2 separate regions of the Homo sapiens genome follow, and region 1 is reported to be linked to region 2. The links are microRNA targets in miRTarBase. Many come from high-throughput screens and were not tested one by one. Region 2 holds a microRNA gene; the other region holds the end of a gene's coding sequence.
What was found. The annotated mature microRNA hsa-miR-6750-5p reads CAGGGAACAGCUGGGUGAGCUGCU and lies in region 2 at 11,414-11,437, shown strand. An mRNA with a match to its seed (bases 2 to 7 or 8) in the 3' UTR can be bound and repressed. Matches are read on the target gene's strand: a 7mer-m8 pairs with bases 2 to 8, a 7mer-A1 pairs with bases 2 to 7 and ends in A, and an 8mer does both.

Region 1 (7,798 bases), not on the chromosome of region 2:
TGGAGCCCAAGCAGCAGAGGATTCTGGGGGAAGAATCAGGAGCCCCTAGTCCCAGTCCACAAAAACATGGGAGCCTGGTTGATGAGGAAGTTTGGGGTCTGCCTGAGGAGATAGAGGAGCTTAGGGTGCCCTCCCTTGTACCCCAGGAGAGGAGCATTGTTGGCCAGGAGGAGGCTGGGACATGGAGCTTGTGGGGGAAGGAGGATGAGAGTCTTCTGGATGAGGAGTTTGAGCTTGGCTGGGTCCAGGGCCCAGCACTGACTCCCGTCCCTGAGGAGGAGGAAGAAGAGGAAGAGGGGGCTCCGATTGGGACCCCTAGGGATCCTGGAGATGGTTGTCCTTCCCCCGACATCCCTCCTGAACCCCCTCCAACACACCTGAGGCCCTGCCCTGCCAGCCAGCTCCCTGGACTCCTGTCCCATGGCCTCCTGGCCGGCCTCTCCTTTGCAGTGGGGTCCTCCTCTGGCCTCCTGCCCCTCCTGCTGCTGCTGCTGCTTCCATTGCTGGCAGCCCAGGGTGGGGGTGGCCTGCAGGCAGCGCTGCTGGCCCTTGAGGTGGGGCTGGTGGGTCTGGGGGCCTCCTACCTGCTCCTTTGTACAGCCCTGCACCTGCCCTCCAGTCTTTTCCTACTCCTGGCCCAGGGTACCGCACTGGGGGCCGTCCTGGGCCTGAGCTGGCGCCGAGGCCTCATGGGTGTTCCCCTGGGCCTTGGAGCTGCCTGGCTCTTAGCTTGGCCAGGCCTAGCTCTACCTCTGGTGGCTATGGCAGCGGGGGGCAGATGGGTGCGGCAGCAGGGCCCCCGGGTGCGCCGGGGCATATCTCGACTCTGGTTGCGGGTTCTGCTGCGCCTGTCACCCATGGCCTTCCGGGCCCTGCAGGGCTGTGGGGCTGTGGGGGACCGGGGTCTGTTTGCACTGTACCCCAAAACCAACAAGGATGGCTTCCGCAGCCGCCTGCCCGTCCCTGGGCCCCGGCGGCGTAATCCCCGCACCACCCAACACCCATTAGCTCTGTTGGCAAGGGTCTGGGTCCTGTGCAAGGGCTGGAACTGGCGTCTGGCACGGGCCAGCCAGGGTTTAGCATCCCACTTGCCCCCGTGGGCCATCCACACACTGGCCAGCTGGGGCCTGCTTCGGGGTGAACGGCCCACCCGAATCCCCCGGCTACTACCACGCAGCCAGCGCCAGCTAGGGCCCCCTGCCTCCCGCCAGCCACTGCCAGGGACTCTAGCCGGGCGGAGGTCACGCACCCGCCAGTCCCGGGCCCTGCCCCCCTGGAGGTAGCTGACTCCAGCCCTTCCAGCCCAAATCTAGAGCATTGAGCACTTTATCTCCCACGACTCAGTGAAGTTTCTCCAGTCCCTAGTCCTCTCTTTTCACCCACCTTCCTCAGTTTGCTCACTTACCCCAGGCCCAGCCCTTCGGACCTCTAGACAGGCAGCCTCCTCAGCTGTGGAGTCCAGCAGTCACTCTGTGTTCTCCTGGCGCTCCTCCCCTAAGTTATTGCTGTTCGCCCGCTGTGTGTGCTCATCCTCACCCTCATTGACTCAGGCCTGGGGCCAGGGGTGGTGGAGGGTGGGAAGAGTCATGTTTTTTTTCTCCTCTTTGATTTTGTTTTTCTGTCTCCCTTCCAACCTGTCCCCTTCCCCCCACCAAAAAAAGAAAAAGACAAACACAAATAAAATATCTGAGCGGAACTGTGCCTTTGGCCCAGGCTGCCTCTGTCTGCTTTGTCCTGCCGCCTAGCCTCCCCGGTATGCCCCCAGGCTGACCCTCGGCCCGGCTCCATGACCTCTTCACCCCATCTCCGTTATCTCAGCCCCCTCACTCCTCCAGCCTCATGCTCTCTGCCTTCATAGCTTCATTGCACCATGACCACCACCGGCTCTGGGGTCTGGGCCCCTGTAGAACTTCACCGAACTTCTTGGTCCCACAGAGCGCCTGTTTGCGGGTTCCTTCCAGAGGTCTTAGTTTCCAGGCCCTTGGTCTCCTCATCCCTTGCCTTTTCTCCCAACCATGGCTGCAGGGGACCAAATTGCTCTCCTGCATCAGGCATTACCCTAGTGGGTTGGGGGACGGGGCTGCAGACCCTCCACAGTAGGGGGTGCTGAGCTGGGGGCAACCAGGCGGAGTATGAAGGCTGTGGCAGCAGGATTGAGTGTGGGCCTGGAGTGGGAGCTGAGTGTGTGAGGGGCCGGGCTGGAATGCGGATCTGGTCAGGGTGGTAGCTGCTGGCCGGTTGAACTTGTCAGGCCCTTTCTGGCCACCTCCTTTGCCCCTTTCTCCTCTGCGGCCCAAAATGGGGCAGCCCCTTCTTACCCATTTCTCAGCTCGGTGCTTCTCCTCCTTCCCTGCCTTCCTCCCTGAGCTGCTGGACCTGGGACTTCCTGTGTCTGTCCTTAGTCGTGTTGCTTTCTTCATGGGTGTTTTGTGTGACTGGTTCTTCTCGCTTGTTCTCGTGCACGTTCTCATATTTGCTCACGTGCTTCTGTCTCTAGGTCACAGTCTCTCCCTCTTTGCCTGGTCAGAGCTTCCAAGATCCTCAGTTCCCTGTCCAGTAACTCCGATGTTCTTTCTCGTGGGTATCGCACCCAACTCCGTGCACGTGCTCTTGGAACCTCTTGTCTTCTCTGCATCTCTTGCCCATCGAGACCTTCCTGATCTCTCTCAACACGATCCCACCTCTCCATGTCTGTCTGTCTGTATACAGCTCCCCCCACCCCCTCTGTCTAACATGTTTTCTGTTTCTCTCCCTCTCCCTGTCTCTGCTTCTGTCTCCTCTCCTCTTCTCTCTCTTCTCCCCATTTCCCCTGGTTGTTCCTCCTCTTCCTCTTCCTCCTCTTCCTCCTCCTCTTCCCCGCTGCCCCCATCTCCCCTTGATCCGTCCACTGCATAGTCTAAGGAGCTGCAGATCAAGAAGCAGTTCCAGGAGACGTGTAAGATCCAGACTCGGCAGTACAAGGCTCTGCGAGCACACTTGCTGGAGACCACGCCCAAAGCTCAGCACAAGAGCCTCCTTAAGCGGCTCAAGGAAGAGCAGACCCGCAAGCTGGCGATCTTGGCGGAGCAGTATGACCAGTCCATCTCAGAGATGCTCAGCTCACAGGCGGTGAGGCCTGGGGTCCAGGGAGGGAGTGCGCTAGAGGCCAGGCTCTGTACTTTGCTTTAGAGAAATGGACGGTGCAGGGCATGCACAGAGCTGGGGCTTTTTTACTTGGGAAACTCACATACTCTCCCTCTGTTCGTGTTCTCCACAATGATTTATTTCATATTCTCCTCAGTGGTTTTATTCTTTCTCTTAGTATTTTCTTAAGGTCTTGACAAAGCCATGTGCCTATTCCCAAGAACCACCAAGGAAAAGAGTGGCTATTATTTTTTTCCTGGGCCTGAGTTAGTTTAATGGGTAAACAGGGTGCAGATTAAAGTGAGTGTGGCCCTCAAGCCCATTTACTCAGACTTCTGGAGGATTTTGAAAGTTGCTGTTCTAAAAAAATGATCACACCTAACACTGGAATGGGCCACTTAAAATGTGCGGAGAGGGTGGAGAGTGGAAACGCCCCACCCAAGGCTGTTCTCTCACCCAGTCCCACCTCTCCCAGGTAACTTGTTAATAATTAACTGTATTTTGTGTTTTTTCAGTGCACATTTTGAAAAATTATATGAATTTTAAACACAGATGGAATCATACTTTACATTTACTTTCTGTAACTTCTTTTTTCCACTTAATATTTCTTGGACATCTTCCCCTGTCAGTACACCTGTCTCATTTTTTTTACAGCATAGAATTTTCCATGGTATGGCTGTACCATAATTTATTTAACCCATCCCTTATTGGTGGACATTTAGGTTGTTTCCAGTATTTTGCTATCACAACGCTTCCGTGAACACCTCGAGCACATGTGCAAGTATACCTGGGGGATAGATTCTGCAGTGTAATTGCTGTGCCACAGGGTATGACCATCTTCCATTCTGATAGATGTTGAGACCGCTGCTTCTTGAAACCTTAGGGCCCAGGCCTACCTGGGGCAGGGGAGGATAGTGGGGGTGGGGGAGGAGATCCCTACAACTGGTTGTTCATCTTCCCCAGCTGCGGCTTGATGAGACCCAGGAGGCAGAGTTCCAGGCCCTTCGGCAGCAGCTTCAACAGGAGCTGGAGCTGCTCAACGCTTACCAGAGCAAGATCAAGATCCGCACAGAGAGCCAGCACGAGAGGGAGCTGCGGGAGCTGGAGCAGAGGGTCGCGCTGCGGCGGGCACTGCTGGAGCAGCGGGTAAGGGGCCCAGCCTCCAGGACTGGGGAGGGAGGGTGGGCTCCTGCCCCCGACTCTAACCTCTGTTCCGGATGCCCCAGGTGGAAGAGGAGCTGCTGGCCCTGCAGACAGGACGCTCCGAGCGAATCCGCAGTCTGCTTGAGCGGCAGGCCCGTGAGATCGAGGCCTTCGATGCGGAAAGCATGAGGCTGGGCTTCTCCAGCATGGCTCTGGGGGGCATCCCGGCTGAAGCTGCTGCCCAGGGCTATCCTGCTCCACCCCCTGCCCCAGCCTGGCCCTCCCGTCCCGTTCCCCGTTCTGGGGCACACTGGAGCCATGGCCCTCCTCCACCAGGCATGCCCCCTCCAGCCTGGCGTCAGCCGTCTCTGCTGGCTCCCCCAGGCCCCCCAAACTGGCTGGGGCCCCCCACACAAAGTGGGACACCCCGTGGCGGAGCCCTGCTGCTGCTAAGAAACAGCCCCCAGCCCCTGCGGCGGGCAGCCTCGGGGGGCAGTGGCAGTGAGAATGTGGGCCCCCCTGCTGCCGCGGTGCCCGGGCCCCTGAGCCGCAGCACCAGTGTCGCTTCCCACATCCTCAATGGTTCTTCCCACTTCTATTCCTGAGGTGCAGCGGGGAGGAGCAGATGAGCTGGGCAGGGCAGGGGTGGGTGGAGCCTGACCCTGGAGGGCACTGAGCTGGAGGCCCCTGCAAGGGTAGGGGACAAGATGTAGGCTCCAGCTCCCCTCAGACCTCCTCATCTCATGAGCTTCTTGGGGCTGGCCAGTGGCCCAGGGCCAGCTTGGCGATAGGTGCCTCAAGGCTGCCTGGGAGCCCCGCCTCCCTACCATGGTGCCAGGGGTCTCCCTCCGCCACCTAGGAAAGGAGGGAGATGTGCGTGTCAAATATTCATCTAGTCCCCTGGGGGAGGGGAAGGGTGGGTCTAGACATACTATATTCAGAGAACTATACTACCCTCACAGTGAGGCCCTCAGACCTGCCACAGGGCAGAGCAGGTCTGGGGCCTGAGGCAGGGAGAATGAGAGGCCACCTTACTGGCAGGAAGGATCAGGATGGGGTCTTGGGGTCAGGATGCCTGGGTCTCTTCCCGTAACTGTCTGACGTCCTGTGCCGTCTTGTCCTTTATCTTTTTTTTTTTTTTTTTAATTGGGATCAGGGCTGGGGCGGGGAAACAAGGGAAGGACCTTGGAAGGGGCTGCTCCCAGGCCTGGGGGGCAGTCGTGGGAGCCCCTCTCAGCTGTGGGGCTGGCACAGAGCCCCAGGCAAGCTTTTAATAAACTGTTGGTTATTCTAACAGATCTCAGGACTCACCCTTCTGTCTTTGGTGTGCGTGAAGGACTGCTCAGTGGCCACTGAATAGTACTGCTTGTGTTTTATAAAGAGAATTTATTGGGCTGTGTATCTAAACATTTCAGTGATTTTAATGACTTTAGGTGTGACCAGATCTCGGATCTCAAAGGTGGTCTTCAACCCCTTGACCTCTAATTCGTTTTCTTTGCTTTGACTTCAAAGATTCTTAGGTTTGCCTCCCACACAGACCCCAGGCAGCTCCATGCTCACGAATCTTCCCGCAAGCCTCAGCAGCCAGAGTTCAGTGGAGACCTCATGTGACTGCAGAGGCTGGGCCTGTAGCCAGAGGCCTAGAGGGCTAGGACTGGCCCAGGAGGTATGGGCTTTTCCCCACCCCTTTGAGGCTAACAGCCCATGGACAAAGTGGCTGTTTGCATAAGGGAGAAGGCTTAAGCACTGGCTGCCCTCAAGTCATTCTATCCCTCTCCCAAGTGGGCATTAGGTTATCAGACTAGGCTAAAAGCAGAGGGGCCACGGGGTAGGCGGGCAGCACAGGAGCCACACACCCTTCTCCAAAAGGGTCTGGTGGCTGTTGGATGACAGGGTCTGGAGGCAGGGACTTCTTCCAGGAACCCGGGGGAAATTAAAGGGAACCAGGCCAGGGGAGGAGGTGGAGGCAGTGACTACTGCTCAGTTTCCTGGCCCAAAATACAGGAGGTGAGAATGGGGGACCAAATTTGATGAGGTGATTAAAAACACTCCTTTATTGAGTCTTAAAAAATAAACACCTTAAAGGGACAGCGTGAAGCTGAGAAGTAGCATCCCAACAGCTTGTGTCCTTGGGAGCTGCAGTCTTCTCTGAAGGAAGCTGCTTCTGTTCCACAGACACAGGGCAAGGGGTGCTATGTATGCTTTGTACATGTATCAAGGGTCCCTCCTGGGGGTGGCAGAGCTCAGTTACTCTCGCCATCACTGCTGATGATGCCACGCATATGTGACCAGTCTGGGGGTGCGGGACGGGGCCGCTCTTCATCTGAGTCCAGGGTCCGTCGGTACAGCTCCCCTGGGGGTGCTGCTTCTCCTAAAGGGTTCCAGGCTGTACGTCTGCGTGGCCGGCCTAGGGGAAAGGGGAAACGAGAGATCAGATGTCTGAGAAGGTCCAACCCCACCTATCTGCTCCTGGGCAGTGAGAGGAAACCCCTTACCCGAGCCACTGATGATGTTCGCAACATCCAAGGAGGCCACCTCAGCTGCCTCCTCCCTCTGCTCCTTCAGGGCCCGACACTTCCCTAGGGAAGGGGTACCTGGGGCAGAAGAAGCTGGTGATTCTCTCCTCCCCAGCAGGAAGGCCCTCTCCTGCAGCCCCCAGGGCACGCCGGGCCTCACCCTTCATGCCTAGCGCTTCCAGTTCTGCCCGGAGGATACTCAGGCGCTCCTTGTGTGAGCAACAGGAGCCCAACAGCTTCTTGTAGTTTCGATGGGCACCACAGGCCCGAATGTAGCGCTTCAGCCTCATCACAGCCGGGTGGTCCTCTCCACGGCGACCTGAGCCAGCCTAGCAAGGAAAGAGCAGCTGAAGGCCAAGCCTGCTGGGCCTGAGGCAGGGTCTCCCTCTTCCCTAATAGTGGCCTCCCACCCCTCCTCACCCTCACCTTCCCTCCTTTGGCCTCTGGACTTCCATCTGAGGAGGAAGAGGAGCTTCGTGTCCTGCCTTTCCTGGAGCTCTTCTTGGAAGAGCGGTTCTTCCTCTCCCCCTGGGGGCCTCCCCCTGCCTCGCTGTCACTTACCTCCCTCTCCAAGTCACTTTCCTCACCACTGGTGCTGCCCAGTCTGGCCATCTTTCTAGAGCCTTTAGCTGTGGGTTCCCCCTTCCCACTGTCTTCCTCGTCCTCGCTGCTTCCACTCAACCTCTTCCCACCCTTAAGCTGGGTCCTGTCCTCACTCTTCCTCTGCACTGGGGGTTCTCTATCTCTCCCACTGTCATCCCCACTGCTGGCTGCCTCTTTCTGCTCTTCCTCGCTGTCTGAGTCTCCCAAGAGCCTCTTTGCCTGGCTTTTCTGCTTACAGCTCCTCTCCTCCCTAGCTGACTTTCTCCGGCCATTGCTCCTGGTTCTGGGTTTCCAATCCCCCTTTTCCTCATCCTCTTCTTTCTCTTCCTCCTCCACTTCCTCCTCTCTCTGCTCTTTCTTCTGGGCTAGGATCTCCTCTTCACTCTCCTGTTCACTTTCCTTCAGGCTTTTAG
Region 2 (16,589 bases):
CCATTGCCGACCTGCGGCCTGAGCCGGACCCCTGGGCGGGCCAGGCCGTGCGGGCTGAGCAGCTTCGGCTGGAGCTGAGTGAGCCCCAGTTCCGGTCAGAGCTTAGCAGTGGGCCTGGTCCCCCAGTCCCCACCCACCTGGAACTCACCTGCTCCGACCTACATGGTGAGAGCCCCCGAGTGACAGAACTTGGGGCAAGAGGCCTGGCTTCTGGGAGAGATGGGCTTGGGGCTATGGAAGGGGCCCAGTCACAACCCGAGCAGTCCCTGGCCCAGGCCTTTACCAGCTCTTGGGGTCCCAGCACTGCCTGTCCCCGGCCTCCTCACCGACAAGTAGGGTGGACCCTTTGTCTCTGGCTTTCTCTGCCCACCAAGGTGTGTGTGGAGTCGGGGGCACAGCTCTGAGCCGACCTGGGCATTGGGGAAGAAATAGGAAAAGGCAGCAGTGATGACCCCCCTAATTCCCCATCCCCCTCCAGGTATCTATGAAGATGGAGGGAAGCCACCTGTCCCTTGCCTGCGTGTCTCCAAAGCCCTGGACCCCAAGAGCACTGGGCGCAAGTACTTCCTGCCCCAGTAAGTAGGGGCTCTGGACTGGGCCCAGGAGAGGAGGGTTCTGCTGGGGGTGGCAGGGGGCCAGTTTGGAACTGGGTGCCGGGGGCCCTGCAGGCCAGTAACAGGCCTGTGCCCCGGCAGGGTAGTGGTGACTGTGAACCCCCAGTCCAGCAGCACACAGTGGGAGGTGGCCCCGGAGAAGGGAGAGGAACTGGAGCTGTCAGTGGAGAGTCCCTGTGAGCTGCGGGAACCTGAGCCCTCGCCCTTCTCCTCTAAGAGGACCATGTATGAGACAGAGGAGGTGAGACTTGGCCCCACCTCTTCCCAGGACCCCCTCCCGCCCACCGCCCGGGTTCCTGCCGTAGGAGCCACCTGTGTGGCTGTGGGCCAGGGCAGCACGACCACCTGGGGTGGGCATGAGCTGACCCAACACCAGTGAGGATTTCGGCTCTTCCATTCTTTCCAGCCAGTCAGAGAGTCTTTCTGAAACGGCACTGGTGAGGGCAGGCCCCTGGGGAGCATGGGTCCTCGATTGGAAAGATCAGGTCCTGCCCCACCTGACCCGTGGATCAGCACTGTACACTTAGAAAGGCAGTTAAGGGCCAGGCTCTGCCACTTGGTGACTGTGTCATCACCCTGGGGAGTTATCTGACCTTGAAGAGTTACCTATAGATGAGTTTCTTCCCCTGGAAAATGGGCACCATGACCTGTCTTTCTCTCTTTTTTTTTCTTTTTTTTTTGAGATAGAGTTTTGCTGTGTCGCCGAGGCTGGAGTGCAGTGGCATGATCTCGGCTCACCGCAACCTCCGCCTCCCAGGCTCAAGCGATTCTCCTGCCTCAGCCTCCTGAGTAGCCGGGATTACAGGCGCGTGCCACCACGCCCGGCTAATTTTTATATTTTTAGTAGAGACGGGGTTTCATCATGTTGGCCAGACTGGCCTCTAACTCCTGACCTCAAATGATCACCCACCTCAGCCTCCCAAAGTGCTGGGATTATAGGCATGAGCCACCGCACCTGGCCTAATTTTGTATTTTTAGTAGAGACAGGGTTTCACCGTGTTGGCCAGGCTGGTCTCGAACTCCTGACCTCAAGTGATCTGCCCTCCTCACTCTCCCAAAGTGCTAGGATTACAGGCGTGAGCCACCGCGCCCAGCCTAACCATAACCTGTGTCACAGGCCTGTTGTGAGGATGAAAGAAGTTAACATACCTGAAGCCCTTAGAACAGCACAGGTGTGCCATCAGCACTGTATCTGTACGGCTATCATGCATCCCCAGTAGAGAAGGGCTCCTATGAATGAATGAATGATGAACGACAGGAGGGCAGGACTGAGACCAGAGACAGGCCCCAGCCAGCGTCTCTAAGATGACTCTCCTGCTCTTTCCACCTCACCCTGTCCAGATGGTGATCCCTGGAGACCCTGAGGAGATGAGGACGTTCCAGAGCCGGACCCTGGCACTGTCCCGCTGCAGCCTGGAAGTGATCCTGCCCAGTGTCCACATCTTTCTGCCCAGCAAGGAGGTCTACGAGAGCATCTACAACAGGTGGAGACCCGGGGCCAGCAGGGCGGGACTGGACACTGGGTGGGCCTGGCCTCCCTTACCTGCTGTCCACCCGCCTATCTCAGGATCAACAACGACCTGCTCATGTGGGAGCCTGCAGATCTGCTTCCCACCCCCGACCCCGCCGCCCAGCCCTCGGGCTTCCCCGGCCCCTCAGGCTTCTGGCACGACAGCTTTAAGATGTGCAAGTCAGCCTTCAAGCTGGGTATGAGAGGTGCTAACGCTGGGCTAGAGGGAGGACCCCCAGGTCTGGGAAGGGCCAGGCTAGCCCTTCGCGGTCTCCTTCCCAGCCAACTGCTTTGATCTCACCCCAGACTCGGACTCGGATGACGAGGATGCCCACTTCTTCTCAGTGGGGGCATCAGGTGGCCCACAGGCCGCTGCCCCTGAGGCCCCAAGTCTTCACTTGCAGAGCACCTTCTCTACACTGGTGACAGTGCTGAAGGGGCGGATCACAGCCCTCTGTGAGACCAAGGTGAGTGCAGCCCCGGGCAGGCGGGCCCCAAACTTCAGAGCTCCCATTGGCGGCAGAGCAAGACCAGCGCGAGCAGCTCCAGGTCAAGAATGTGGAGAGCAGGAGGCCTGAGTGGGCAGCGCCAGCCCACCCACGCCAGCCTGCCCACCCTGTCACAGCCCATCAGCTCCTTCTGACCCCCTGCTGTATGTAAAGCACCATGCTAGGGGTCGGGATGGGCATGGAGCACCCACTGTTCCCACTCCGAGCGGGCAGACCCGGCAGAGATTATTTTTCTCCTGGCAAAAGAGGCAAGTGCCATCCAGGGCCTCCAGCAGCGTCCATGGTGGAAACTGGAGCTGACCCCCTTAGGCCAGGGCTCCAGGAGCCGCCAACCCCCAGAGGGCTTGAGGGTTGCTGAGTGCAGCTGGGGAAGCCAGGCTGTGTGCTCCTTCTGCAGGATGAGGGTGGGAAGCGGCTGGAGGCTGTGCACGGGGAGCTGGTGCTGGACATGGAGCACGGTACCCTCTTCAGCGTCTCCCAGTACTGTGGCCAGCCAGGACTTGGCTACTTCTGTCTGGAAGCTGAAAAGGCAACACTCTACCACCGAGGTGTGAGGCCTGGGGGCAGGTCACCACTGGGGTCCAGGGTTGGGGGTGGAGGGCTTTCAGGACGGATGTGGGCCCTGGGTGGAGTGGGTAGCCAGTTGGCTTGGCAGGGGGCTCATGAGACCCCTCCCCAGCGGCCGTGGATGACTACCCGCTGCCCAGTCACCTGGACCTTCCCAGTTTCGCTCCCCCGGCTCAGCTGGCCCCAACCATCTACCCATCGGAGGAAGGGGTGACCGAGCGGGGAGCCTCGGGCCGCAAGGGCCAGGGCCGGGGACCCCACATGTTGTCCACTGCTGTGCGCATCCACCTGGACCCCCACAAGAATGTGAAGGTATGGGCTTGCCTACCATCCACCCCTCCTGCTAGCCTGGGCTGCAGCCCCGGTGTGCGGTGGGACCCCAGTGCGCGGTGAGGCCCCAGTGCACGGTGGGGCTGGCCTCCCCACTGCCCTGACTGCGCCCCCACCCTCAGGAGTTCCTGGTGACACTGCGGTTGCACAAAGCCACCTTGCGCCACTACATGGCCCTGCCCGAGCAGAGCTGGCATTCCCAGGTGAGCGTGGGTGGTGGGAAGCCACATGGCCCAGTGACTCTGGACTTCTGTTTTGGGCAAGCAGGTCTCTAGGTGGGAGGAGGCCGGTGGGAGGAACATGGACTGGGCCACAGCTGACCTTGTCCGGAGCTCCTGGGCAAGGGGTGTGGCAGACAGCTAGTGGGCAGAAGGTGAGGTGCCAGGCAGGGGCCAGGACAGGGAGGGGTTAGAGGAGGGAGGACACCACCTGATCCTCACTGCTTCCTCCTGCCCTGGCCTCTGAAGTTGTTGGAGTTCCTAGACGTGCTGGATGACCCTGTGCTGGGCTACCTGCCCCCGACGGTCATCACCATCCTGCACACACACCTGTTCTCCTGCTCTGTGGACTATAGGTACCAGGCTGGGTGGGCCAGGGGCTGGGGACGGGGATGGGCTCTCAGGTGTAAGGAGCCGGCCCCAGCCCGAGTATCACCCCCAGGCCACTCTACCTCCCAGTGCGTGTCCTCATCACCGCGGAGACCTTCACTCTCTCCAGCAACATCATCATGGACACCTCCACCTTCCTGCTCAGGTATGCAGGCCGCCCCACACTGGGCCATCCCACCCTCGCCGGGCCGAAGCTGCCTGCCAGCTGTGTGTCCTCTGGTGCTCTCGGTCTTAATGTACACCCGGGTGATAGTCTCATTCTCAGGAATGTGGATTGTTTCCGCCTTTCTAGAGGGCAGTTGGAGCCTCCTGATGAGACCCTTATAAGCATTTGTGCTCTCTGACCTGTAATCTCATGTCTGAGGGTTGTCCTAGGATATGCGAATAAGAGAGGTGGGATTTAATGCTTATGGAGTATAAGTTAAAACAGCCAAAACGTATCAGTTAAATCACAAGCCTCACAACCTGAGCAAATAAGCATGGCCCACCTAGTAGGTAGAAAACCATGCAGGGATTAAGGTGAAGCTGAAGAATCCCTTCAAAATATAAGAAGATGGAGGGTGCGGTGGCTCACACCTGTAATCCCAGCACTTTGGGAGGCTGAGGCAGGCAGATCACAAGGTCAGGAGTTCGAGACCAGCCTGGCCAATATGGTGAAACCCCGTCTCTACTAAAAATACAAAAATGAGCCGGGGGTGGTGGCAGGCGCCTGTAGTCCCAGCTACTTGGGAGGCTGAGGCAGGAGAATCACTTGAATCTGGGAGGCGGAGGTTACGGTGAGCGAAGATTGCGCCACTGCACTCCAGCCTGGGTGACAGAGCGAGACTCCGTCTCAAATAAATACATAGATAGATAGATAGATAGATAGATAGATAGATAGATAGATAGATAAAAAATATAGAAAGATGCCACAGTACAGTGTTTACTCAAATAACATTGGATACAGGACTGCGTACGTTTTAAAATCAGTTTATGAAGGGGTGTTTATATGTCTCGGCGTGCAGCTGCAGAGAAAGTTTGGAAGGAGATGTGTATGGTGGTTTTCTCAGAATTAGGGATTAGGAATGATGAATGATTTTTATTTTCTTTATTCTAAAATATCTTAAAGGAGTTTTCATTATGTTACCCTTAAAATAAAGACTTTTTTATTTATTTTTTTTTTTTGAGACAGAGTCTCGCTCTGTCAGCAGGCTGGAGTGCAGTGGCGCAATCTCAGCCGACTGCAACCTCTGCCTCCTGGGTTCAAGCGATTCTCCTGCCTCAGCCTCCCAAGTAGCTGGGACAACAGGCACCCACCACCACACCCAGCTAAGTTTTGTATTTTTAGTAGAGACAGGGTTTCACCTTGTTGGTCAGGCTGGTCTCGAACTCCTGACCTCGTGATCCGCCTGCCTTGGCCTCCAAAAGTGCTGGGATTATAGGCATGAGCCACCATGCCCAGCCCTTATTATTATTTCTTTTTGAGATGGAGTCTCACTCTGTCGCCCAGGCTAGAGTGCAGTGGTGTGATCTAGGCTCGCTGCAACCCCTGCCTCCCTAGTTCAAGAGATTCTCCTGCCTCAGCCTTCCAAGTAGCTGGGATTACAGGCACCCGCCACCATGCTCGGCTAATATTTGTATTTTTAGTAGACATGGGGTTTCACCACGTTGGCCAGGCTGGTCTCAAACTCCTGATATCAGGTGATCCGCCTGCCTCAGCCTCTCCAAGTGCTGGGATTACAGGCGTGAGCCACCGCGCCAGCCAAAAATAAGGACTTATTTTAGAAGAACCACAAATGCAGCAGGGAGAAAAATGGACACCCCTTCCCAGGACTGTCATGAGGCCCCATTGAGGTGTCGGAACTGCAGGCACTTTGAGAGCTGCAAGTGCTGCCCGCTTCCCACTGCCTGCTGTCTGGGCCTTCTCCCCATTGTGCAGGCAGGAACGCTGAGGCTGGAGGGGCCTGTCCATACCACCTCCTGTGGGCTTGGGACCCCTCTGCTCGGCTCCCGTGGAGCTGCCCCCTGCAGCGGTGCCCGGGCCCTTCTCAGCCCTGTTCCCCCCCAGGTTCATCCTCGATGACTCCGCCTTGTACCTGTCCGACAAGTGTGAGGTGGAGACCCTGGACCTGCGGCGAGGTGGGCAGGGCCGGGACTGGGCTCCCTCCCCTCTGAGGGACCACCGCCCCGGCCACACCCAGAGCAGCCAGGTGTCTCCCCGCAGCTGCTGGCCGGGTCCTTAGCTCCCACACGTAGCCCGCACAGCAGGGACTACACCTGGATCAACCGGATCCTTCCCCCAGGTGCTGGGGCCGGGGCCGGGTGGAAGGGGGCCACAGGACCTTTCTCTCGCCTCTGCTGCAGATTATGTCTGTGTTTTGGATGTTGACCTCTTGGAACTTGTGATTAAAACCTGGAAAGGGAGCACCGAGGGCAAACTGGTGAGTGAGGCTGTCACTCTGGCTCCTGGAGCCACAGCAGGTGCAGGGGCCAAGGGAGTCTTCAGGGGCTGCTGCTCCCTCACGTGCCTGGGCTCCGGACACAGTTCATGCCTGCCCTTCCTGGGCTGCAGTTAGCGCCCCTCCTGCAAAGGGCCATAGTACAGCCCTGGTGGGGGTGTCCCTTGATGCTGGCTGAATGAATGAATGGGTTTCAGCCCTGCCACCAGAGGACGCGGCAGCCAGGGCACCAGCGAGGCCCTGGGAATCAGCCACCTTTGTAGGTCCCCGGATTCATCTCCTGTAAGATGGAGATAACCTGCCCTGCCTCGCTAGGCATGCAGAGCCCTTCACGGGGAGTGGGGTAGGGTGGGTGGGCACACTCCTGCTTCCTTGGATGGCCCTGGGCCAAGCCCCTTTCACCCTCTGGGTGAACAGTTTGTTCATCTGTTCAGTGGAGTTACTGGGCAGGTCATCCACTCCAGGAGAGACCATCCCTGTTCTGCCTGTGGCAGGATCAGAACTGCGGTGCCCTCCCAGCGAGCGGGTGGGGCCAGCAGGCAGTGGCCCCTGTGTTCACATAGCTGCTCCCCCCACCCCGCCCCTGCAGAGCCAGCCACTATTCGAGCTGCGCTGCTCCAACAATGTGGTACACGTGCACAGCTGTGCCGACTCCTGTGCCCTGCTGGTCAACCTGCTCCAGTACGTAATGAGCACAGGCGATCTGCACCCCCCACCCCGGCCCCCCAGCCCCACGGAGATCGCCGGCCAGAAGGTACAGGTGAGGCCTGGCCACACAGGCTACCAGAGCTCGGCCAGGCCCCTCCCCTGCCATGGCCCTCGGGCCTGGGGTTGGGGGAGCTCTGTCCTGTCTCACTCATTGCTCCTCCCCTGCCTGGCCCAGCTCTCGGAGAGTCCTGCCTCTCTGCCCTCGTGCCCCCCAGTGGAGACGGCCCTCATCAACCAGCGTGACCTGGCCGACGCCCTCCTGGACACCGAGCGCAGCCTACGGGAGCTGGCCCAGCCTTCAGGTGAAGTGGGGGTGCTGTGGGGACAGCAGACACAGTCAGGCACCCACTGTGGGCGCCTCTCCAAACTGGCCTCTCTCCTATAGGTGGCCACCTCCCTCAGGCGTCGCCCATCTCCGTCTACCTATTCCCAGGTGAACGGAGTGGGGCCCCACCCCCTTCACCACCTGTCGGGGGCCCTGCTGGCAGCTTAGGGTCATGCTCAGAGGAGAAGGAAGATGAAAGGGAAGAGGAGGGCGATGGAGACACCCTGGACAGTGATGAGTTCTGCATCCTTGATGCTCCCGGCCTGGGCATCCCGGTGCGTGGTGGGAGGGATGGACCAGTTTGCCGTCCAGGCAGGTGTGTTTGGAGCGGGGACGGAACACTCAGGGGTGGTTGCCTGGCCATCTGGAGCTCCCGTGGTGAGAGAAGCAGGCAGGAGGTGGTTGCCATCACCTCGGGGGTGGTGCTAGGTCTGTGCCACCCTAGGGAGGCAGCCCTGATGCTGGGCTTTGATGGAGTAGGGGGATTTCCAGAGGAAGAGGAGGCCTGGTGTTTTGGGCAGAGGGACTGGGAAATTCAAGGGATGGAGGAAGAGGAGAGGGCAGTTAGCAAGAGGGATGGAGAACCATGTGGCTGCAAGGGCCAGTGGGAATGTCTGAACTCACCCAGGTCTTAGGAGGCAGGGCTGGCAGGAGCCTGGCATTCTCAGGCTCCTCTTGGACAGACCACTCAGGCATAGACTCGGGTGATAGCAACCCAGGAGTGTCATCTTTCATCAAAAACAGGGAGGAGGCCAAGCATGGTAGGTTACGCCTGTAATCCCAGCAATTTGGGAGGTCAAGGTGGGAGAATTGCTTGAGTCCAGCAATGAGAGATTAGCCTGAGCAACATAGTGAGACCCCGTCTCTACAAAAAATAAAAATAAAATTAGCCAGATATGGTGGCACATGTCTGCAGTCCCTGCTACTCAGGAGGCTGAGAATGGAGGATCGCTTGAGCCTAGGAGGCAGAGGTTGCAGTGAACTGTGATTGTGCCACTGCACTCCAGCCTGGGTGACCGAACATGACCCGACCCTGTCTATAAAAAAAAAAAAATGAAAAAGAAGTGAGGCCAGGTTGCTGGGGCTGGGGGCAGCTGGGCTGGATCGAACATCTGTGTCACACGTCTACCTGGCCTCCCTGCAGCCCCGAGATGGGGAGCCTGTGGTGACACAGCTGCATCCCGGCCCCATCGTTGTGAGGGACGGTTACTTCTCACGGCCGATCGGCAGCACGGACTTGCTGCGGGCACCTGCCCATTTCCCAGTGCCCAGCACTCGGGTGGTGCTACGTGAGGTCTCCCTCGTCTGGCACCTCTATGGGGGCCGAGACTTTGGCCCCCACCCCGGCCACAGGTGAGGAGGAGCGGGTGCAGGTGGCAGCTGGTGAAGGTTGGGGCTCAGGCTGGTCCAGGTCTGACTTTCAGCAGCTGGAGACCTTGAGCCCCATCCACCCCAGGTGGGCCTCAGTTTCCTCATCCTTCCTTATCCCGCCTGCCTTCCAGGACTGGGGCTAGCGGGGGTCTCTTGTCCCAGGCTAAAAGGCCCGCTGAGGACGGGGAGGGAATGGGGTTCCTCTGAGTCAGCTTGGCCCCTGTCCCTCTTCCCAGGGCAAGAACTGGCCTCTCAGGTCCCAGGAGCTCCCCTTCCCGCTGCTCTGGCCCCAACCGGCCCCAGAACTCATGGCGCACGCAGGGGGGCAGCGGGCGGCAGCACCATGTCCTCATGGAGATCCAGCTGAGCAAGGTGAGTGGGGTGGCGAGTGCCTACTACACGTGTGTGTCATAGAACAACGGGCCTTGTTCTCGATGTCACGTGTAGCAATGACTAATGCAGAGGAAAACCCCTGCCTTTGTAGTGGAGGAAGCCAGGCAGGGACCAAGATGTATCGAGTGTGTCCGATGGTGAAGAGCGCTCAGGGGAGAGTCTGCAGGGGTGGAGGAGACAGGTGTGCTGGGGAGGGTCTGGAAAGTCCTCTTCTGAAGGCACCATTTGAACAAAGACCTGAACAAGTGGGGATGTGAGCCAGGAAGAGTTTTCAGGCAGAGAGGACAGCGTGAAAGCCGCAAATTGGGGCCAGGCATGGTGGCTTATGCCTGTAATCCCAGCACTTTGGAAGGCCGAAGAGAGCAGATCACCTGAGCTCAGGAGTTTGAGACCAGCCTGGGCAACATGGCGAAACCCCATTTCTACCAAAAAAAAAAAAAAAAAAAATTAACCATTTGCAGTGGTGTGTGCCTATAGTCCCAGCTACTCAGGAGGCTGAGGCAGGAGAGTTGTTTGAGCCCAAGAGGCAGAGGTTGCAGTGAGTTGAGATCGCCCTATTGCATTCCAGCCTGGGCAACAGAGTAAGACTCTGTTTCAAAAAAAAAAAAAAATGCTGGAAGCTGGAAGCATCCTGACATTTCCAGGAGCAGCAGAGCCTGTGCATAACCAGCGACCCAGAATGTTTCTTTTGAGTCTTACAAGAGACGAACCCCTCAGGGCTTTTGAGGAGAGGCCTCTGTGGGGTGGGGCTCTGCAGCAATCAGGGAGGGCTAGTGAGCAGGTTCAGGAGAGCCTAGATGGGGGCTGGCCACAGGTTCAGCTGCGGATGGGGTGTGTGAGATACAGAGAGTGGTACAGAGGGTTCAAGGTTTGGGCCTGGGAAATTGCCTGGGGCAGGGGGGTCCCACTTGCTCAGAGTGAGCCAGGCCAGTGCTGGGCTTCCCAAGGAGCCGCTAGAGGCAAAGGGCAGAGGGGCCTCAGGCTGCTCGGGTTGGTGGGCTGTGCTGCAAGAACCTGCGGGAGATGAGTGTCAGAGCAGGGGGCCAGGGGCCTCTCTGAGACCTGATGGCCAGCCAGCGGGTGTGCAGGAAGAGGGGGAAGGAAGGCTCTCCACGGAGAGGGGCTACGAGAGCAAAGTCCTGAAGGCAAAACAGGCCTGGACTCCTTGAGGGGCAGAGACCAGTGCAGCTGGCATGGGAAGCAAGAGCAGGGTCAGGTCTGGAGGGAGAGGCAGGTCCCTGCTGGGCATAGAATAGAGAAGGGGTAGGGGCCGGGCATGGTGGCTCATGCCTGTAGTCCCAGCACTTTGGGAGGACGAGGCAGGCAGATCACTTGAGGCCAGGAGTTCGAGACCAGCCTGGCCAACGTTGTGAAACCCTGTCTCTACTAAAATTAGCTGGGTGTGGTGGCACATGCCTGCAATCCCAGCTACTGGGGAAGCTGAGGCAGGAGAATCGCTTGAACCCGAGAGGCAGAGGTTGCAGTGAGCCGAGATCACGCCACTGCACTCCAACCTGGGCGACAGAGTGAGACTCTGTCTCAAAAAAAGAATAGAGAAGGGGTCTGGGGCCAGCCCTTCCCTCCCTCTTGGGGCCCTGCTTACCTGGCCAGGCCTCTGTCCACCCCACAGGTAAGCTTCCAGCACGAGGTGTACCCAGCGGAGCCAGCCACAGGCCCTGCGGCCCCCAGCCAGGAGCTGGAGGAGCGACCGCTGTCCCGTCAGGTGTTCATCGTGCAGGAGCTGGAGGTCCGAGACCGGCTCGCCTCCTCCCAGATCAACAAGTTCCTGTACCTACACACGAGTGAGCGGATGCCGCGACGTGCCCACTCTAACATGGTATGAGCGACCTGCACCATCCACCCTGGGGCAGGGCACCAGACCGTTGGGGATACATCTTCACGCATGCATGGATTCACACACATACACGCATTCCCACACAAACACCCAGGTTGTTTGTGAGCCTGGGAGAAGGGCAGAGCTAGGGGCTGTGTTAGCGAAGGGAACAGCGTGTTCAGAGGCAGGGTGGCTGGGTGAGCTGTCAGGGAACAGCTGGGTGAGCTGCTGCCCCAGAGGCCCAGCAGGTGTCCAGAACTCACCCTCTGCTCCCAGCTCACCATCAAAGCGCTGCATGTGGCCCCCACTACCAACCTGGGTGGGCCTGAGTGCTGTCTCCGCGTCTCGCTGATGCCCCTGCGGCTCAATGTGGACCAGGTGAGTGGTCTACGTGAGGGCAGAGCCTAGGGTGACCCCACTGTCTCCAGGCCTCTGAGTCTGATCCACATCTGGACCTCTCCCTTGCAGGATGCCCTCTTCTTCCTCAAGGACTTCTTCACTAGTCTGGTGGCCGGCATCAACCCCGTGGTCCCAGGGGAGACCTCCGCTGAGGGTGAGAGGCTGGGCCAGGGAGGGGAGCGTCTGGGCCTTCTGCCTCCCAGGACAGCACAGGTTCCCAGTCATTCCTGGCCCCATCCCCAGTCTGTGACCTCCCCTCCCCTAGCTCGCCCCGAGACTCGAGCCCAGCCCAGCAGCCCCCTGGAAGGGCAGGCCGAAGGCGTAGAGACCACTGGTTCGCAGGAGGCCCCAGGAGGTGGACACAGCCCCTCCCCTCCTGACCAGCAGCCCATCTACTTCAGGTAGGCTGCTGGACTGCGGGTGGGGGGCCCTGGGCCAGATTGCTGGGGGCCAGGCCAGTGAGCAAAGAACCCCCTCTTCCTGCTCCCCTACCCAGAGAGTTCCGCTTCACGTCTGAGGTCCCCATCTGGCTGGATTACCATGGCAAGCACGTCACGATGGACCAGGTGGTAAGTGGGGCGGTCGGATGGGGTGGCCATGTGGGGTCAGCTGTGGCTGAGTCCCTCTGGGGGCCAGGTCTTGCATCCAGGCACTGTTAGCAGCCAGGGCGCTCTCCAGTGGCTCCCATGGGCTAGCTAGCTCCCTGAGTCCCATTGGGTAAACCTGGACCCCCTCCCTCTCCCAGGGCACTTTTGCTGGCCTCCTCATCGGCCTGGCCCAACTCAACTGCTCCGAGCTGAAGCTAAAGCGGCTCTGTTGCAGGCACGGGTGAGTCCCCAGCACCCCAGCCTCTCTCCAGGGTCCCTGATCTTCCTTCTGTTCTGGTCCTGACTGGTTGTGTGGCCTTGGCCAAGTCATCACCCTTCTCAGGGCCTCAGTTTCTCCTCTGTAAAAAGGACGCAGTTGGCTGGGCATGATGGCTCACACATTCAGGCATTCGAGACCAGCCTGACCAACATGGTGAAACCCCCCCGTCTCTACTAAAAATACAAAAATTAGCCAGGCGTGGTGGCATACACATGTAATCCCAGCTACTCAGGAGGCTGAGGCAGGAGAACTGCTTGAACCTGGGAGGCGGTTGCAGTGAGCCAAGATCGCACCACTTCACTCCAGCCTGGGCAACGGAGCAAGACTCCATCTAAAAAAAAAAAAAAAGGACACAGTCCCTCTGCACATGACTGGGTGGGACCACAGGGAGGGTAGAGTGCCCACAGTACTTGCCACAGGGGTACTGAGTCCTCCTGACCCCACAATCCCTCCATGTGTGGCTCTGCCTCACCTTCTGCCTCCTCACCTCCCTGCCCTGCCAGGCTCCTGGGTGTGGACAAGGTGCTGGGCTATGCCCTCAACGAGTGGCTGCAGGACATCCGCAAGAACCAGCTGCCCGGCCTGCTGGGAGGCGTGGGCCCCATGCACTCGGTTGTCCAGCTCTGTGAGTGTCTAGGTTTGGAAGCCCTCGAAACTGCTTTTACCCTTGGGCAACCTAGAAGCTGCCATTGGGAATAAGAGGAGGAGGTGGGGGCAGGGCAGCCTCGGGTGTCTCTGAGCGCTCCTTCCCCCTAGTCCAAGGGTTCCGGGACCTGCTGTGGCTGCCCATTGAGCAGTACAGGAAGGATGGCCGCCTCATGCGGGGGCTGCAGCGAGGGGCTGCCTCCTTTGGCTCATCCACAGCCTCTGCCGCCCTGGAACTCAGCAACCGGTTGGTACAGGCTATCCAGGTGAGTGGGTGCCCTGTATCTGGGCTGTGCAGGACAGAGCAGCTGGAGCCCTCTGCACCACAGCTCCCTGGTTCTGTCCTCAAAGCTCCTCAGAGTGGGCAGTCTGGGTATGACAGCCCTACTTTATAGAGAAACAGCCACGGAGAGGCTAAGTGACTTGCCTGGGACCTCCAAGCCAGGTCTCCCGAGGCCCACAGGGGCTCCCATGCAGGAGCGGGAGTGCCCCCCAGGCCTTCAGAGCCCACTGTGTCTCCTGCTCATGGCATGTCTTGTAAAGGGGGGTGGAGGACGGCTGTGTTTGCAGACTAAGAATCTGAGGCGCAGAGGCTGCCCTGGTTCATTCAGGCCATACGCTTCGCTAGGCCAGAAGGACCCCAGGGAAGCTGGGGAGCCAGTCTCGTGGGCAGTTGTCAGATGAATTCTGTAGGGGATCGATGGTCCTAGGCGGCTAAGGGGTGAGTGCAGGTGCATGGTGCATTCTGGAACCTGCAAGCTCAGACCCCAACAGGACAGAGGGCAGGGCTCCAGGGGAGGTGGGAGGGATGCATGGGCACCAGGGAGCCCCCGGGAGTGTTCAGTCAGGTGGGAAAGAGTGATGCCAGGTGAGATGCTGGGCAGAGGATCTGGCAGACAGAAGGAAGGATGGGCCTCTGACCATCTGGCAGGGGCGTCTGGGGGGCCAGGCAAGGAGCGGTCAGTCTCAGGCGTGCAGCTGCGGCAGCCATGTGGAACCTGCTGAATGTGGTGGTCAGCAGGAAGAGAGGTTTGGGTTGAGAAGACTTTAGGAAAGTCCCCTGAGGAGTCCCACGTTCCTAGGTTCCCTCAGCAGAGTGGCAGGTGCCTAGGAAGGGGAGGAAGAGTGGGAGGAAGTGGGGAGTGAGGCTGAGCAGGACCCCCTAGGCCAGCACAGTGACAGGCAGGGAGGCTGAGGGCTGGTGGGGTCTCAGACTGTCCTGGGGGCCTGGGGCTGACGTGTGCCCCAGCCAGCTGTCCTCATCCAGTGCTCCCATGTCCCCCAGGCCACAGCTGAGACCGTGTATGACATCCTGTCCCCGGCAGCCCCCGTCTCCCGCTCCCTGCAGGATAAGCGCTCTGCGCGGAGGCTGCGCAGGGGCCAGCAGCCTGCCGACCTGCGGGAGGGTGTGGCCAAGGCCTACGACACAGTGCGAGAGGTGACCAGGCCCCCGCCCTGCCCCAGTCCCCCATGCCCATCTCCTCACACAGACCCCGCCCTGACCTCTGGCTTCCACAGGGCATCTTGGATACAGCTCAGACCATCTGTGACGTGGCATCGCGGGGCCATGAGCAGAAGGGGCTGACGGGCGCCGTGGGGGGCGTGATCCGCCAGCTGCCCCCGACTGTGGTGAAGCCGCTCATCCTGGCCACGGAGGCCACGTCCAGCCTGCTCGGGGGCATGCGCAACCAGATTGTCCCCGACGCCCACAAGGACCACGCCCTCAAGTGGCGCTCGGACAGTGCCCAAGACTGAGCCTGGGGTGCCCGGCACCCAGAGGGTGCTGCCCACCATGCTCCTGAGCCTCCCAAGAGCTGCAGCCCACGGGCCCGGCCCGGCCTGGCCCTTCAGGGGATGGCCACTGTGAAGGACGCCTTCCCAGCCTGCCCGTTGCCAATCTGCTGTGAGAGGGGGGCCTCCCTGCCTTGGGGCCTTAGCCCTGGCTCTGCACTTTTCCTCCGGGGAGAAAGGACACTGCCCCTCCCCCGACCTGGGCCCACACTGCTGCCTTCTCCCAGGACGGAGGCTTTTGGACCCTCGGACCCCATCCCACTCAGCCAAGTGTCTTTCTGTGTCTGGGGGGAGGAGGGGATGATATCCGTGTGGTTCGATGTATTATTTTTAAGCTCCGTGAGTGCGTGGGTCAGTGTCTGCATGAAGTGGAATAAACTGCCCACCGCCAGCCCCCCTCTCAGATCCTCTGTCCCTGTGAACCCTGGCCTCAGCCTTGACCTTGGCCCCGCCCCAGATCCCACCTCTGCACCCAGCACCTCCCATGTCACCACCAGGGGTCGCCATGCCTCCTGGCCTTGCCCAGCAGATCAGGGCACAGGGGGACCCAGAGGCACCCAGCCCTGCACGCCTTCCCCTGGCTCTGGGCTCTGCCTTGCCCCTCCCAGGAGGCTGCCACTCCAGCCCCACTCCTGATGTGGCAGGAGCTACGTGGGGCTGCCAGGGGAGGGAGGGATGGTCCTTGGAGCCCAGCTGACCCTGCCTGGTTGTCACTTGAGGCCACTCGGGGAAGGCTGAGCCTGAGGCATTCTAGATGTTGCTCTCACCATCCCTAGTGGGGGCTTTTGGGGTGGCCCAGGCCTTGGCCCCTTGGTTTCCACTCTGATCTGGGGTCCCAGCTCCAGCACTTGGAGGGGGGAGGGGTGCTGGAGCAGCGCTGCAGCCGGAATCCCAACCCTCACTGCACAAAGCTTTACACAGGACCAGGGAGCGCCCATTGCCCCCCACACATCTTGTTTCTTGTGAGCTGCTCCCATCGCGCTCCTCCCTGCCCTGCTTCCCAGTGGCGCTGCACAGAGGTGGGTGGGTCCATGGGGAAACCAAGGCTCGGGTTGGGAATCAGGGAACCCTCACCTTGCTAGGTTCCGCAGGCCTCTGGGGTTAGCAAAGGTCCCCCAGCCCTGCTCTGTGGCCCCTTCTGAGTGGGGGAGATCTGGGTACTGGGAACAGAGCAGAAGCTTTGTCCCGAGGGACCCTGGGGTCCTGGCTGCCCACGGACAGCTGGGGCAGCAGGCTGGTAAGAGACCAGGAGGGCGAGGCCCTGGAGGAGACAGGGCTGTGGAGACTCGGTGCTGATGCCACCCGGAGAGGCAGATGGGGCCCAGCCTGATGCTTCCTGGACCCGCCCCACCCTGCCCGGGCACAGTCCAGGGCTTCCTGCCCTTCGAACCGCACTTGTGATCAGTATTGACGGTGGTGGGATAATCATTAACCACCACCAGGGGCTGGGTCAACGGCTCAAAAGGCCCTGGGCCCAGGGTGTCCCCACTTCCTCCTTGTGCCCCGAAGGCCAGCCCGGCACTCAGGTAAGAGGCTTCCTGAGTGGTAGGACCCCTGCCGCCCTCCCTGTCCTAGGAGGCTCCTGAACCCAGGCACCTCTCTGAAGGGTGGCCAATCCTGAGGAAGAAAGGGACCTGGACAGCCATGGGGTGGCCGGGACGAGCCCCTTCCTCTCTGTGC

Region 1: miRTarBase lists HIRIP3 as a target of hsa-miR-6750-5p. Seed matches in the 3' UTR shown: 7mer-m8 at 6,204-6,210.

The regions. Positions count from the first base shown.
Region 1 is chr16:29,986,698-29,994,495 of GRCh38, forward strand. HIRIP3 (HIRA interacting protein 3) reads right to left here. Exons shown (of 7, transcript NM_003609.5): 4 at 7,209-7,798; 5 at 6,943-7,111; 6 at 6,762-6,860; 7 at 5,633-6,673. The coding sequence ends at 6,510. TAOK2 (TAO kinase 2) reads left to right here. Exons shown (of 16, transcript NM_016151.4): 16 at 1-1,696. The coding sequence ends at 1,283. Among named protein-coding and RNA genes, the nearest start is that of HIRIP3, 5.0 kb to the right of the region's middle. RefSeq lists enhancers at 4,135-4,722, 6,410-6,910, 6,911-7,411.
Region 2 is chr11:64,893,257-64,909,845 of GRCh38, reverse strand. MIR6750 (microRNA 6750) reads left to right here and starts at 11,409; the gene lies at 11,409-11,483. It overlaps ATG2A (autophagy related 2A), which reads left to right. Exons shown (of 41, transcript NM_015104.3): 14 at 1-165; 15 at 479-575; 16 at 696-855; 17 at 1,956-2,098; 18 at 2,182-2,321; 19 at 2,407-2,591; 20 at 3,031-3,181; 21 at 3,313-3,512; 22 at 3,653-3,733; 23 at 3,998-4,104; 24 at 4,191-4,283; 25 at 6,186-6,256; 26 at 6,482-6,558; 27 at 7,166-7,330; 14 more. The coding sequence ends at 14,873. MIR6749 (microRNA 6749) reads left to right here and starts at 7,391; the gene lies at 7,391-7,459. MIR194-2HG (MIR194-2 host gene) reads left to right here and starts at 16,397. Exons shown (of 3, transcript NR_133640.1): 1 at 16,397-16,435. RefSeq lists an enhancer at 9,396-9,525.